Linked DNA regions of Homo sapiens: region 2 is linked to region 1. A link means that fine-mapping ties the variant in region 1 to the expression of a gene that starts in the linked region. Tissue or cell type: whole blood. Region 1 holds a variant in brackets; the other region holds the start of a gene. All regions are shown on one strand. Distances are from middle to middle.

Region 1 (8,102 bases):
TTCAGTTATCACTCTCCTGTTATAGAAATTCGAAGAAATGTGAGAAGGTCAAGATCAAGGTCACGTGTCATGGAATGACAAAAGTGTGTTGTACCCAGGTGTTCTGATTTCTAGACCTGTGTTGTTTTCCTAGTGTACTATGATGTGTTTAATCCATGGACATTCTAAGAAACTCAGGTTGCAATTTTCTTAAAACTTAATTCCTTGATATGAATATTTATCAAGGACAATTTTGTCAAAAATGAAAGCATTTTCATTCTGGAAAATTGACTCTTAGGGTCACATGCCCACTGTGGAGCTCCTGAAAAAGTATCACCTGATGCAGTTTGCGGAAGTAACCAGAGCTGTGAGGTAGAGTATGCCATCCTTCCTGTTTGGGGTTTTAAAAATGCAAGCCTGATGAGAGTTGACGTGCACGCTCTGTGAGAAACTCACCCTCCTTCTGACGCGCCTCCCCCCTCACCAGCGAGGGCAACCTGCTGCTGCTGCACGAGGCGCTGGCGAAGCACGAGGCCTTCTTCATTCGCTGCGGAATCTTCCTCATCCTGGAGAAGCTGAAGATCATCACCTACAGGAACCTCTTTAAGAAAGTGTAAGCATTTCCCCGGCACATTGGGCTCCCAGTGTGGCTCTCGGCAGAGCAGTCAGACATCCAGGGCTGTTGCAGTCTAAGAGAGAAGGCCACCGTGTGGGTGGGGTCGTTATCTTCCTTCCATTGTGTGGGATAAAATGAAGCCTCCGCCCACTGCCTCCTGGGGACCCTGCGCGAGACACGTGAGTAGCACAAGCTGTGCCTGGACTTGTGGGGGAGGTAAGCAGGTTCTATGTGAGAAGACAACTTGAGAACATCAGCCCTGAGAGCCGCGGTACCACATTTCATCAGAGCACACAGGACTCGCCACTCACTCCCCTCCCTTAGTGCTGACCAAGTAGCCCTCCCAGCCACTTCTGCCTGTCACAAAGGCAGATGCAGAGATCGTCATTCCTTTCCTCACACGTCTTCTGAGGCCTCGTCCCAGCAGGATCTCAGTTGTGTAAACTTCAGGCAAAGGCCAACTTTGTATAGAGCTGTGGGTAGCACGTCACAAACAGTAGGGACCCTATTTCGCTGAGTCTGTGAGACACAGCCCATTGTCAGGTGCTTCCTGATTTCAGGGAGATTAAAATGTGAAAAAAAAAACCGAACCTTAATGAAATACTTAGAAAATAATTAAAAATTGTGTTTGTACTAGTGACTTTTTAAAGATTGAAAAGTCAAATTAGATTTAATAGCTCTGAGAGTGTAGTTTAGAGTTTATCTAATAGGTGGGAATTTTTTTACTCCTTTAGAACACCGGCTTATTAAGAGGTGCCTTTTCTTGGCTGTGGAGTATTGCATCCTGTCGGTAACCACAGTGCCCTTCTCCTCCCCTCTTCCAGGTATTTGTTACTGAAAACACACCAGCTGTCTCTGGATGCTTTTCTGGTTGCCTTGAAGTTCATGCAGGTGGAGGACGTGGACATTGACGAAGTTCAGTGTATTCTGGCTAACTTGATATACATGGTGTGTGAGTCCTGGTTTTAATTTAAGCAGCTACTCACAGCAAGATTCAGCCCAGAATTTGAAGCTTCAGTGTGGTGGTGTTAAAATTGTTAAAAGGCCTTCTGCTTTTTTTTTGATAGAACTAATTTTAGCCCAGGAAATACCATTCACCAGGGCCTTAGGAGCATGAGGGGACGGATACTCTTGTATGTTTGCATATTCTTTACTGGCGGTACATCCCTCGGTATCTGTCGATTCTCCAACCCCCCTCGGATACCAAAATCCACAGGTGCTTCAGTCACTGATAGGACGTAGTATTTGCATATGAGCTATGCACGTCCTCCTGTATACTTTAAATTATCTCTAGGTTACTTAAAATACTCAGTGCACTGTAGATAGCTGTTGTACTGTATTGTTTAGGGAATCACGGCAAGGGAAGAGCGTCTGTACGTGTTCATTACAGATGCATTTTTTTTCCCCAAATATTTTCAGTCCACAGTTGGTTAGATTCATGGATATGAAACCCACCGTGGATATAGAGGGTTGATTGTATTTATTTTTACTCATTGTCTTCCCGCTGAACTGAACTGTGCCGCTCTTGGGGAAGAATGCTAATGCCAAATTAATTAGATCACCCAGCATCTTTGACATGACTCAGATCCAAAAATGTAAACGCATTCCTCCCTTTCTGCCCCGCAGGGACACGTCAAAGGCTACATATCGCATCAGCATCAGAAGCTGGTGGTCAGCAAGCAGAACCCATTTCCTCCCCTGTCCACGGTGTGTTGAAAGTACACGGAGCCCCGAGGACGGGTGAGCAGTTGTTTCTTTCCACTTTGGTTGTGCTGATGAGACCGGTCCGGTACTGCAACAAGGCTCCCTGAAGCCGGAACTCTTGGAGGCGCTTTTCCCAGGGATGCTGAGGCTGAGATTTTCAGCACACCCGAGTTAATCTCCTTCATTTGTAACTAATTTCAGCCTGATGAAAACCTGGAATTCCTTTTTCACAGACTCGGCTGGTTCTGGAGTCTTTGTGAGACTTCTTTGAAGGAGGCTTTGCGTGAAGGCTGCTCGGCTCACTTTTCCTAAGTGTGGTTCCTGAAGGCTGTCTTTGTAACTTTTTGTAGTTCTTTGTGTAAAAAGCGTATTCTGAATTTATACACATGGCATGTTCTTCATTATATCTTCCAGGATACATCTATTTTTATATATTAAATTTGAATGTGTTATCAAAATGCTTGGTTAACTTAAGGCACCTTTTTAAAAGCAGAATTTAATTTGATTTAAATTTTCCAGATTTTATAGCTTGCCTGTATGGATGCTCCTCAATTTATGATAGGGTTACATCCCAATAAACTTATTTTATTTGCCTTTGCTTTGTTGGTTAAAAAAAAATTTCTTTTAAAAAACCATCTTAAATTGAAAATACATTTAATACACCTGCTACTAAACATTATGGCTCACTCTAGCCTTCCTTAACATACTCAGAAGCCTCCACTCTTAGGCAAAATCAAACACAAAGCCGATTTTATTTTATAATAAAGTGTAGATGCCGGGCGTGGTGGCTCACGCCTGTAATCCCAGCACTTTCAGAGGCCAAGGCAGGCAGATCACCTGAGATTGAGAGTTGGAGACCAGCCTGACCAACATGGAGAAACCCCGTCTCTACTAAAAATACAAAATTAGCCGGGCGTGGTGGCGCATACCTGTAATTCCAGCTACTCAGGAGGCTGAGGCAGGAGAATCGCTTGAACCCGGGAGGCAAAGGTTGCAGTGAGCCGAGATCATGCCATTGCACTCCAGCCTGGGCAACAAGAGCGAAACTCTGTCTCAAAAAAATAAATAAATAAAAATAAAAGTGTAAATACCTCGTGTAGCTTACCGAGTGCTACACTGAGAGTGGAAACTGAAGGGCTGCGTGGACGCTGAGGCATGGCTGCCCCTGAGCGCGTCCCTTCGGCACCACGGCGAGGTTGACAGTCGCTAAGTTGGGCCACTCACATTGGGCTGTTGGGGCTGCCATCACAGAATACCACAGGCAGCTTAAGCAACAGGAATGTATTTCCTCACAGTTCTAGAGGCTGGAGGTCTGACTGAGATGGGGTTGCCAGCACGGTCGGCTTCTGGGGAGGGCTCTCTTCTGAGTTGCACACTTAAGAATAAGGTGGTATTCTTGCTGTGCTAGAGATGGTACAGATAGAGATGACTCTCTCCCTCCTTTTTTGAGACAGGACCTCACTCTGTCACCCAGGCTGGAGTGCGGCAGTGCAGTCAGTGCTTACTGCAGCCTCGACCTCCGAGACTCAAGTGATCTTCCCTCCTCAGCCTCCCAAGTAGCTGGGAGCACAGGTGCATGCCACCACACCCAACTAATTTTTTTATTTTTTGTAGAGACAG[C/G]GTCTTGCTAATATTGCACAGGCTGGTCTGGAACGCCTGGGCTAAAGCAATTCCCCCACCTCGGCCTCCCAAAGTGCTGGGGTGACAGGCATGTGCCACCACACCCGGCTCTCTTCCTCTTATAAGGCCACAGTTCTGTTGGGTTAGGACCTCACCCTTATGACCACATTTAGCCTTAGTTACCCCCTGAAGACCTTACCTCCAGATACAGTCACACTGGGGCTAGGACTTCAATGTAAGAAATTTGGGGGACACAGTTTAGTCCCCAGCACTGCCATTTTTCAGACTATGCACATTTCCCCGTTTATAAAAAATTTACTAAAGAAGAACACAAACTATAAGAGCTCATCTTTGCAAAGTTACTGCATTTGAAAGCTGCTTGTTCAAGGAGAGGCTATTCTACAAAGTGTGAATCCCTCTTTCTCTCTCTCCGGGCCGCGCGGCGCAGGACTCACTTTGTGTGGCTCCTTCCTCAGGTTCCCCTGGATGCAGGAGCTGCCCCAGGGCTTCAGCAGCACTCCTTAGCTCGCTCCTACATCTGCAGGTCTGCAGTTTCTTCCGGGCTGGGCGGGGAAGCTTGTGGGCTCTTCTGGGGCCCGAATGGGCCTCTTTGAAGGTGACTCATTCCCGTGTATTGGCCCGGGCTCTCACCTGGAGCTCAGCAGGGCTGTGGGTGGGCTCCCCTGTTTCTCTCCACACGTAGGGAGCTGGATTCTGGGAGCGCAGATCCCAGTAGAGCCAGGGAAGCCAGATCTCTTTTATGCCCTGCTCTCCTAAGTCACACCCGGATTCCAGCCGTGGACTGCCACACGTACACGCGAGAGATGAATGCACGAAGGCAAGCGCCTGTGCCTGTGGAGTTCATGCCAAGGATCCTCTTGACCTACGTAGCTGCTCCCCAGCAGCAGCAAGGTCCTCAGCGCTGGCAGTCGTGACAAGTGCCTCCTATGTCCTGTGGGGCAGACACGGAGCAAACTCATGCCGGCGGAGGCTTTGGGCGCGCATCTGTTTTCTAGCTACCCATGTGTCCAGTGGGGCCCCGTTCTCTTGCAGTGTTGGGTACGGAAATCTGATCTTCCCTGCTGCTCTGCATGGGCCTTGAACATCCTTCAACTTTTGACTTAAATGATTTTCTTGCAGTAATTTGAATATTGGAATTTCTGCCAGCATACCTGAATTTCATTCTGGATGTAATAGCGGTGGAAAGCTCAGGTTTGTCAACATTTCTGGGTAACGTATTGAACCGTCCATAGTGACACCTAAAGTCAAGGATTGATACTTTAAGGTAATTGGATGGTTATTCTTAGCGATGAAAGAAACAACCTCAGTGTAGGTGTCCTTACGTTTACCTCTTGGTGTTCAGGCCTCTGTCAGTTCGTTCTCACGCTGCTATAAAGAACTGCCCGAGACTGGGTAATATGTAAAGGAAAGAGGTTTAATGGACTCACAGTTCCACATGACTCGGGGGACCTCAGGAAACTTACAATCATGGCGGAAGGGGAAGTGAGCATGAGCAAAACTGCCACTTTTAAAACCATCAGCTCTCGTTAGACGCCCTCACTGTCACGAGAACAGCGTGGGGGAGCCGCCCCCGTGATCCAATCACTTCTCCACACGTGGGGATTACAATTCAAGATGGAATTTGGGTGGAGACGCAAAGTCAAGGCCTGTGTCCAGCATGGCAGCATTCAAGTCCACGGGCGTACACATGGGCATGTATCAGTGTGTTTGCATGGATTCAAATATTGGACTTAATAATCTCTGCCCAAGTGTGAACTAGTTTGGCCCTTTTAAAACATCATCACAGGCTGGACGTGGTGGCTCACATTTATGATACCAGCACTTTGGGAGGCTGAGGCCAGTAGATTGCTTGAGCCCTGGAGTTCGAGACCAGCCTGGGCAATATGGCAAAATCCATCTCTGCAGAAAATACAAAAATTAGCTGGGCATGGTGGTCCACACCTGTAGTCAGGAGGCTGAGGTGGGAGGGTCAATTGAGCCCAGGAAGTTGAGCCCACTATGAGCTAGGATCGTGCCCTGCACTCCAGCCTTGGGTGGCAGACAGAGACCCTGTCTCAAAAAACAAGAAAAACAGTCATCATAGCTAGCTTCCCTTTTCTTGAGTTTTACTGTTTTGTTAGATTTGTTTATGGTGTAGTTTCTAAGCATGTCATTAAATGCCAGTAGAGTAGTTACTTCATTTTGAAGGCCCCTCATGTCTCTGCTGACAGTCTGGGCCTGTAGCTTTCTCTGATTGTTCCTGATTTCACAGATTTCACCATTACGGAGGGAGGGTCTTCATATGCTTTGCCTCTGCCCAGCTGTGTTTGAAGTAGGTTTTTTTTTTTTTTTGAGATGGAGTCTCGCTCTGTTGCCCAGGCTGGAGTGCAGTGGCATGATCTCGGTTTACTGCAACCTCTGCCTCCCGGGTTCAAGTGATTCTCCTGCCTCAGCCTCCTCAGTAGCTGGGATTACAGGCGTGAGCCACCACGCTTGGCAAAGATTTTTTTTTTTTTTGTATTTTTAGTAGAGATGGAGTTTCACCATGTTGGTCAGGCTGGTCTCGAACTCCTGACCTCGTGATCCGCCCGCCTCAGCCTCCCAAAGTGCTGGGATTACGGGCGTGAGCTACTGCGCCTGGACTGGAATAGTTTTCAAGCAGGGCTTCCACTCTAGTAAATCCAAATTTGTAATAGAAGTACCAGAAGCAAGATTGCAGACATTTCTGCAGCATTATGTACAGAAAGCCTGCCATGTTCATTAGCTGATTTTAAAATCATTAGTAGGCATTTAAAGCAGTGACTTACTTACCTTATTGTAGTTTGAGAATAATACAACCAAACTTCACTAAGACTTTAAAATTCACCCTAGTGAATTTTAAACTGCCCTCCCCATTAATTTGCCTTAAATTACAGTGTTGCTTTTTGCCAAGGACCTTTCAGAGAAATGGGCCATTTCATCTACAGGTTGGAGAAAAGTTTAATTCTGGGGTTAAAGCGTAAATGAAAGAGAGTGTGCTGAAGAACAGTAAGGCTTAAAAACCCAAGTTATGTGTAAATTGTTCTCAACTCAAGAGAATATTTGTCCACCTACATTTTTAATTCCTCTTTTTAAAAGTCCTCTCTGCTCTTCAACGATGCTCTGCTCTGTGTCACTCAAGGACACTGGTGGAGAAGCAGCTGTGCCCCTTCCTTAACTAAGAGTTAAAATGTGAACATTTATGCCATTTCTGTCCATTTCAGTGCAAATTCAGACCCTGCTAGGAGCTCCAGTCTCCAAGGACGTTTCACTGGGGGCTGGACTGCAGCTCTGTCTTTGGTACTTGCATTGCAGCTGCAGCCTTCATGACAGCAGGTGTTTACTGTGATTCAGCACGTGCTGTCCTGGTCTGTTCTACAAAATACCATGGACTGGGTGATAACAGAAACTCATTTCTCACAGATCTGGGGGCTGGGAAGTTCAAGATCTGGGTGCCGGCAGATTTGGTGTCTGCTGAGGGCTCTCTGTCTCCAGGGTAGCACCTCACTGCAGTGTCCTCGTATGGGAGAAGAGATGGAAGGGGCTGGCAGAGCCCTCATGGCCTAGTCACCTCCCAAGGGCCCCACCTCCCCATATCATCATCTTGGGGTAAGTTCCAATTTTGGAGTTTTGAAGGGACACACACTCCAGCCACAACAGTGCTGGGCGTTGCCCTAGCTGCCCATCAGCCCATTGGTGAGGTGCTGGGATTCTACCCTGGGCGACCCTGAGGCATGAAGAGGTGGAACAGTTGTCCAAGAGCCACCTGGTGGGACGAGCAGAGAGCTGGGTCTCAGTGCTCAGCCCTGACTTCGGGCCCCGGAACCTTCCGTGGGAACCCTCCCAGAGAAGGGCGGGTGCACAACCCCGTGAGACGCCGGCGTGCCTCCTCAGCCTCTCTTGTGCTCTCTGGCCCTTTCCTCTAATGCTGCCTCTCTGGGATACCCACAGGGTCATTCTCCTCCATTGCCAACCTGCTTCTAGTGGCTGCTTCTGCACTGAGCCATGGTCCTCAGTCACAGTGGCAATTGGTAAACCAACAGAGGAGGTCACTTTCTGCTGTAACCGGAGATTGTTGTCGCTTCTGCACCAGAACACACTCACCAGTGTGCAGGCTGGGGTGGCTATTCCCTGAGCACAGGGAACACTGGACTTGGAGAAGGAA
Region 2 (8,102 bases), 71 kb after region 1:
AAACAGGACCGCCGTTTTGCCCATGGGAAGACGGGGCTGGTGAGGGCCAGAGACGCCCAGGGCGAGGCAACCCCGTGCGCTCAGCTCCGAGCAGGCCGCTCTTCAGGACGCCCTACAGCCGAGGGGACCGTCACCCGGGAGCGCCGTGAGCTGTGGGCACCACGCGGTGGTGGAGAGTGACCCCCGCCCCGGGGCGGCCGTGCTGCCCGAACCTGCCTCAGCCCGCGAGGGGAGACGGGCCTGGGGGCAGGCGGGAGAGGGAGGCCCCGGGAGGAGGCGAGCGGGGCTGAGAGGACGCGCGGGAGGGGCTCTGGAGAGGCCGCAGGAGGCGCGTTCCGGAGGGACGACCTTTGCTGGGAGGACGAGGCCTCAGGTGGACGCTGTGGGCCGGTGGGCAGGAGCCCGAGTTCTGCAGGAGCGGCCTAAATTGGTTACTGAGCGCGGAAGAAGGGACGGAAGGTGAGCGCTACTGGGCCACGTGGGGCCGAGAGAAAGGCCACTGCCTGTTTTCTTTAAAATCAGTTTCACACGTCGACGCCCCTAGAGAACTGGTCTGGTTTGGAAGGAGGCTGAGGATGCAGGCGGGGACACCAAAGAATCGGGCTCAAGGAGGTGGGAACTCACGGACTCCGAGTCCTCACAGGAGGTGCCCTGGGCGGCAGGAGTGGGAGGGGAGGCCCATGTCCCTGCAGTCCCCGACACCCACGCTCCCGGGACACCCACGACCCCCGGGACACCCACACCCCCGGGACACCCACGCCCCCCGGACACCCACGCCCCTGGGACACTCACACTTCTGGGATACCCACGCCCCCGGGACACCCACACTCCCGGGACACCCACGCCCCCGGGACACCCACACTCCCGGGACACCCTCGCCTCCGGAACACCCACACTCCCGGGACACCCTCGCCTCCGGAACACCCACACTCCCGGGACATCCACTCCCCCGGGACACCCACACTCCCGGGACACCCACGCCCCCGGGACACCCACACCCCTGGGACACCCACGCTCCCGGGACACCCACGCCCCCGGGACACCCACGCTCCCGGGACACCCTCGCCTCCGGAACACCCACACTCCCGGGACACCCTCGCCTCCGGAACACCCACACTCCCGGGACACCCACTCCCCCGGGACACCCACACTCCCGGGACACCCACGCCCCCGGGACACCCACACCCCTGGGACACCCACACTCCCGGGACACCCTCGCCTCTGGAACACCCACACTCCCGGGACACCCACGACCCCCGGGACACCCACACCCCCGGGACACTCACACTTCTGGGATACCCTCGCCTCTGGAACACCCACACTCCCGGGACACCCACGCCCCCGGGACACCCACACTCCTGGGACACCCTCGCCTCCGGGACACCCACACTCCCGGGACACCCACTCCCCCGGGACACCCACACTCCCGGGACACCCACGCCCCCGGGACACCCACGCTCCCGGGACACCCTCGCCTCCGGGACACCCACGCTCCTGGGACACCCTCGCCTCCGGAACACCCACACTCCCGGGACACCCACTCCCCCGGGACACCCACACTCCCGGGACACCCACACCCCCGGGACACCCACACCCCCGGGACACCCACACTCCCGGGACACCCTCGCCTCCGGAACACCCACACTCCCGGGACACCCTCGCCTCCGGAACACCCACACTCCCGGGACACCCACAACCCCCGGGACACCCACGCCCCCGGGACACCCACACTCCCGGGACACCCTCGCCTCCGGAACACCCACACTCCCGGGACACCCTCGCCTCCGGAACACCCACACTCCCGGGACACCCACGCCCCTGGGACACCCACACTCCCGGGACACCCTCGCCTCCGGAACACCCACACTCCCGGGACACCCTCACCTCCGGAACACCCACACTCCCGGGACACCCACGCCCCCGGGACACCCACACTCCCGGGACACCCTCGCCTCCGGAACACCCACACTCCCGGGACACCCTCACCTCCGGAACACCCACACTCCCGGGACACCCACGCCCCCGGGACACCCACACCCCCGGGACACCCACGCCCCTGGGACACTCACACTTCTGGGATACCCTCGCCTCCGGAACACCCACGCCCCCGGGACACCCACGCCCCCGGGACACCCACGCCCCCGGGACACGCACACTCCCGGGACACCCTCGCCTCCGGAACACCCACACTCCCGGGACACCCACACTCCCGGGACACCCACGCCCCCGGGACACCCACACTCCCGGGACACCCACGCCCCCGGGACACCCACACTCCCGGGACACCCACGCCCCCGGGACACCCACGCTCCCGGGACACCCACGCCCCCGGGACACCCACACTCCCGGGACACCCTCGCCTCCGGGACACCCACACTCCCGGGACACCCACTCCCCCGGGACACCCACACTCCCGGGACACCCTCGCCTCCGGGACACCCACACTCCCGGGACACCCACTCCCCCGGGACACCCACACTCCCGGGACACCCACGCCCCCGGGACACCCACACTCCCGGGACACCCTCGCCTCCGGGACACCCACACTCCCGGGACACCCACTCCCCCGGGACACCCACACTCCCGGGACACCCTCGCCTCCGGGACACCCACACTCCCGGGACACCCACGCCCCCGGGACACCCACACTCCCGGGACACCCACGCCCCCGGGACACCCACACTCCTGGGACACCCACGCCCCCGGGACACCCACACTCCCGGGACACCCACACCCTTGGAGGCTGGTGTGAGCAGAGCCGGTGACCGCCCTGGGGTGAAAGCAGATTTGCATCAGAAAAGCTCTCAAGAACTGAGGAAAACCTGATGAAGAACACACGATTATCTGGAAGGAACAGAATGGAGCAAAGAAGATAAAATCGCCTGCACCCCAGTCCCAGGGAAGGCCAAGCTGGAGCGGTCACTTCCTCTCGAGCAGGGAACACCCTCCTTGGGGGGCACTGCAGTAGCCACCCCGCGGGCTGGCTCTTTGCCATGGGAGGGGAAGGAGGTGATGTTGGCCCCCACTGGGCCCCAGGACAAAACCAGTGGCAGTCCCTGCTCACCTCTGTGAGGCCCCGGCTTCCACGGCATGTCCCGTGTTTCTCCTCCTGAGGCCTTAGCGACCCCGCCTGGGGCAGGAAGGTGGCCGGGGTCATAAGGCCATGCTGTGAGCTAGGGCTGCAGCCCCACATCCCAGGCACTGTCCCTCACAGCCCACCCCCCACTCGCCATCCCCACACGCCATCCCCACGCCCCACTAGCCATCCTCACGCCACACCCCCTACTCGCCATCCCCATGCCCCACTCACCATTCCCAGGCCCCAGCCCCACTCGCCATCCCCACCCCCCCATGCCCCATCCTCTGCACCCCACACGCCCTTTCCATGCCCCATCCCCCACACCCCACATGCCCCATCCCCGACACCCCACACACCCCATCCCCCACACCTCCATGCCCCATCCCCTGCACCCCACACGCCCTTTCCATGCCCCATCCCCCACACCCCACACACTTTCCCACACCTCACCCCCACACCCCATGCCCCACATGCTGTTTCCCAGGCCCCACCCCCCCACGGCCCATCCCCCACACCCCACACGCCATCCCCACCCCCGATCCTCCACACCCCATCCCCTACGCCCCACATGCCGTTTCCCACACCCCATCCCCCATGCCCCAGGCGCCATCCCCCACGCACCGTCCCCTACCTGTGCTCCCCAGCCTGGGAGCACCCTGTGCGCACTTCCTGCACTCTGAGAGGCCCCAGACTCCCTGCGCTTGTCCGACCTCACAGGCAGGGGCCCATGGGGGCCAGGAAAGCACCACCCACTCCTAAAGTTCTTTGAAAAATAATCCCGCCAAAGCCTGGGCCACCAAGAAGGGCCTCCCCTCCTGTGCCTGGATGCTGGTTTCTAGAAGGAAAGAAATTGAACAGGAGCCGCCAGAAAACCCTCCTGGTGGATGGGGGTGTCCGGAGCAAGGGCGGGGTTTGGGAAGCCCGGGCTGGCTCCTGGATTTGCCCACTGCCCTTCCACCAAGTTTATGGAGAAAACCTCCCCGGACGCACCTGCAGCCAGGCAGCCCTGAAGCCCAAGCAGAAGGCAGAGGAGCCTGAGGGCCTGGGAGACCATGATGAAATCTCTGCAGTGCTGCCCCTGCCTGTTGACATTCCCCATGGGACTGACGGGCAAAGTTCTCTGCCTCCAAGGGTGACAGAGGGATGGGGGAGGGGAGGACACAGGCGTCCTCTGAACACCCCAGCTGAGAGCTGCACCTGGCCGGCCAGTGGCCATGCATCCCCTGCTGCCCAGCCACTGAGCTCAAGTGGGGGGGACAGGAGAAAGGTCAGGTGACCCCAGCTGTGCTGCAGAGCGGACGGTTTTGTTGCCAGCGTGCAGGTGTTAAGGTGTGTGTGGCACCAACACTTCAAATACGATCTAGAATTCCAAACCCCTAATGTAAGTTGGGAAACAGATTTAAACTGCAGATGAAAACTTGTCCCATAGCAATCATGCGAGTCAAATCTCAAGACTGTATCTTGGGTGTGGATGTAAATATTTGAAGAGAGCCTCCAGACCAGGCCAGCTAGGCCGTTGCCTGCAAGGGAGGCTGGTTTCTTAGGTGAGCCACAGAGCCTCACTGAGAAGTGCCGGGAATAGGATCATTCTGGCCCTGAGCTGGGCACCCCCACTCCGTTTTGACTGCAGGCAGCACCCCCATTCTCCAGCGGTCCACATCTTACGTCTTTTTGTTTGTTTTGTTTTGTTTGTTTGAGACAGAGTCTTGCTCTGTTGCCAGGCTGGAGAGTGCACTGGTGCAATCTCACTGCAACCTCCACCTCCCGGGTTCAAGTGATTCTTGTGCCTCAGCCTCCTGAGTAGCTGGGACCACAGGTGCACGTCACCATGCCTGGCTAATTTATATATATATATTTTTTTTTTTTAGCAGAGATGGGGTTTCACCGTGTTGACCAGGCTGGTTTCGAACTCCTGACCTCAAGTGATCCACATGCCTCAGCCTCCCAAAGTGCTGGGATTACAGGCGTGAGCCACTGTGCCCGGCTGGCGGCAGTCCACGTCATTTCTACCTGCTGTCATGGGCCCAAGCCACAAGCTGTGGTGACTAACCACCCCAGGTTGCCCAGGGACTGAGGGTTCTCAGAATGTGGAACTTTCCATCCCAAAAACACTGGGGTAGACGGTCATCCAAGCCTCCTGGGTTGCCCAGCAGGCCTGTCTGACCCCTCAAGCAGGGAGTATCCTCCATGTGAACAGTTGCATTGCTGATGACTTCTTTGGAAGCTGATGTCCAGTTCTTTTTACGGCTGGAGGGAGGGAGGTGATTCCTTCCCAACAGCCAAGTCTTAGCTCAGGGGTGCCTTTCAAAGCAGCCCCCAGCACCCCCAAAGCCTCCCTGCTTGCTGCTGACCTGCATCTCAGTCCAGAGAGCAGAGCACTTGCTGAGGGGCCGACAGGGCATGTTTTCTCTTCCACCCAGCACAGCTGAAGCCCATCTGTGCCCCTCCATGATATCGATCCCAGGGAGATCGCTTACAAAGTAGCTGCTCCGTCTGGAATAAAGCTCACGTCCAGCTCAAATCTGGTCCCCGCGGCTCTCGGCCAGCACAGCCCAAGGTAATTTCAGGACGTGGAGGGGAGGGGGCCATATCTAAACCCTACCCCTTTCCCACCTGAGAGTAGATGGCTGGCTGGTCTTAGGGTACCCTTCCCCTTTGGGGCTCCAGGTCAGAGGTCCTCAACCCTCTCTGGGCAGCAGAATGACCTGGGGAACCTCAAGCGCCAAAACCCCCTGAGAGATTCAGTGGCTCATGGCCTCGGGGCTGGTGAAGCTCTTCAGGTGATGGACCCTCACCTGCATGCAGCCCTCTCTGTGCGGGCAGGCGGGAGGGGGCAGGAACCGGGCTATCTGGCTGGGCTCTCTGCCCGTCTCACTGCTGGCCAGGGCGGCTGCAGGTGCCCGCCTATGGCCATTGTCCTGGTGTGGGTCCTTGAGGACACAGGTGTGAGGGGCTCCACCTGGCCCCGGGGACCCGCTCCATACCTCCCTGAGGGGGACCTGCCTGCTGGTCTCCCTCCCACGTCTGTCCCAGGGGCATGCCTGGAACCTTGCCTGGGGCTGGACCCGGCCACACGGAGTAGCAGGTGTGGGGGCTGCTGCACCATCCCTCTCACAAAACCCCACTTCCTCCCTTCAGGGAGGCTAACCAGGCTCTCCCAGGACTCCCGGGACCTCCTCTGGGGCCTCCTTGGACATGCTGTGGCCCTGTCACTAGGATGGGAGGGTCCTTCAGCCCCTACCCTGGGGAAGGGCACGGTCACAGCTCTGTTCCCAGGCCAGGCCTCCCTCTCTCCTGTGGCAGCCTCTGTTGATCCACCCATCCACTCATTCCCGCCTGCAAGAAGGGCTGGGCCCCTCCGCCTCACAGTCACTCTTGAGTGTGGAGGACACAGGAAAACTTTGGTTGTCATCTCAAGGCAAGTTGCTTGTTTGGGGGCTACAGAAACCACGTCAGCACCTTGTTCATCTGCAGCCATCCCTGACTGTGGTGGTGGGCACACGTGAGCTGTCCAGGGAGTGTGTGAGTCAGATGTCTGTGACATCAGAATCTCTTGGGTGGTGGCTCATGCCTGTAATCCCAGCACTTTGGGAGGCTGAGGACTGAGGATCGCTTGAGGAAAGGAGTTCCAGACCAACCTGGGCAACATAGCAAGACCAAAGCTAGACAAAAAATAAAAAAATTAGCTGGGCTTGGTGGTTCATGCCTGTGGTCCCAGAGACAGAGAACCCGGGAGGCAGAGGTTGCAATGAGCTGAGATTGTGCCACTGCACTCAAGCCTGGGCGACAGAGGGAGACCCTGACTCCTTCCCTACCAAAGAATCTCCATGCTCACACTCGTACATGAGAACCACGCTCGCACAACCCAAACTCACGCCATACACATACCACACTCACACACACCGTACACATGCCACACTCATACCCCAAAGTCACACCACATAAACACACCCCTATACACATGCCACACACCTACACACACGTGATTTCCAGGCTCTTCCACACCCATAAGGAATTGGAATCTACGGGCAGGTCCCGGGAATAGTATTGAACAAACATCCAGGGAAACTGCTATGTGTTCTCGTTTTGGGAACCAGTGAGCACATCCCACCTGGTGCCAAATGCATCTCGGCAGGACGCATGTATGCCAGGGAAACAGGCAGCCACTAACAGGATTTGAGCTTGGGCACCAATTGGTTCCAAATCCTATTTGGTGCAATCCTAGAAGCAAGGGTTTCCTTGTGACGGAGGGTGCAGGGCATGGGAGGACAGAGGAGCTGCGTGCACGGATGCCTGTGTGCCCTGTGCCTGCAAAGCCGCCACAGCAAGCTGTCTTGCAGGCCAGTTCCAATGGCTGACAGTGTGTGCACTGGCGAGGAAAAGCCTGTGCTAAGCGGAACTCTGCTGTCTGTGCAGAGAAGGGAGCTGGGCCTGGGCACCACTGTCAGCCAGTAGAGCACGGGGCTGCTCCCTCCACCCCACCCGGGTGCTTTGCCTTCTTGGGGCCACAGCTGGAGGCAGCTGAGCCCTCGGGCCTGCCGGGTGTCACACCAGTGCTGTAGGATGCTAACTTTCAGTTTAAGAGAGAGAATGTATGCAAGGTTGAACAGTTATGATTTTGAGCAGAATTTTTCTTCTCTGGGCCTTGGTCCTGCTTTTCACCCTTGTCTGGGGTCTTAGCGTGGAGAGAAATTCACCATGGGATGTGCTCAGATTGTCCATCTTATCTTTTTGTCCATCTCTTAAAGTGTAGCTTGTCTTTTGTAAGAAATCTATCCTTGCCCTAGGCAATAAGAATATTCTGTTTCCTCATAATAATGTTTTAATCTTAAGTTTGGGGGGGCTATACTTTTATGCCATCATCCACATGGAAAGGCAGCTGTCCCAATAACACCCGTTCCTGAAGAGGCCATTCCGTGCCAAAGATTGACCAGCCCCAGGACAAGCCAGGTCCCTGCACACATCCCTGCCTGGGAATCTGAATTCTGCTCGACCAGTTTAGCCTCTCTCCCCCTTGTCACGA

Evidence for each region. PIP is the estimated chance that this variant, and not a neighbour inherited with it, causes the effect.
Region 2: F7 starts here. The variant in region 1 is fine-mapped to the expression of F7 in whole blood (TOPMed, PIP 0.99).

Annotation. Positions count from the first base shown.
Region 1 is chr13:113,172,407-113,180,508 of GRCh38, reverse strand. PCID2 (PCI domain containing 2) reads left to right here. Exons shown (of 14, transcript NM_001127202.4): 11 at 278-351; 12 at 467-592; 13 at 1,420-1,543; 14 at 2,222-2,973. The coding sequence ends at 2,311. Among named protein-coding and RNA genes, the nearest start is that of PROZ, 18 kb to the right of the region's middle. RefSeq lists an enhancer at 7,224-7,724. The variant C/G (reference allele first, on the strand shown) is at 3,920.
Region 2 is chr13:113,101,873-113,109,974 of GRCh38, reverse strand. It overlaps F7 (coagulation factor VII), which reads right to left and starts at 4,184. Exons shown (of 8, transcript NM_019616.4): 1 at 4,070-4,184. The coding sequence starts at 4,133.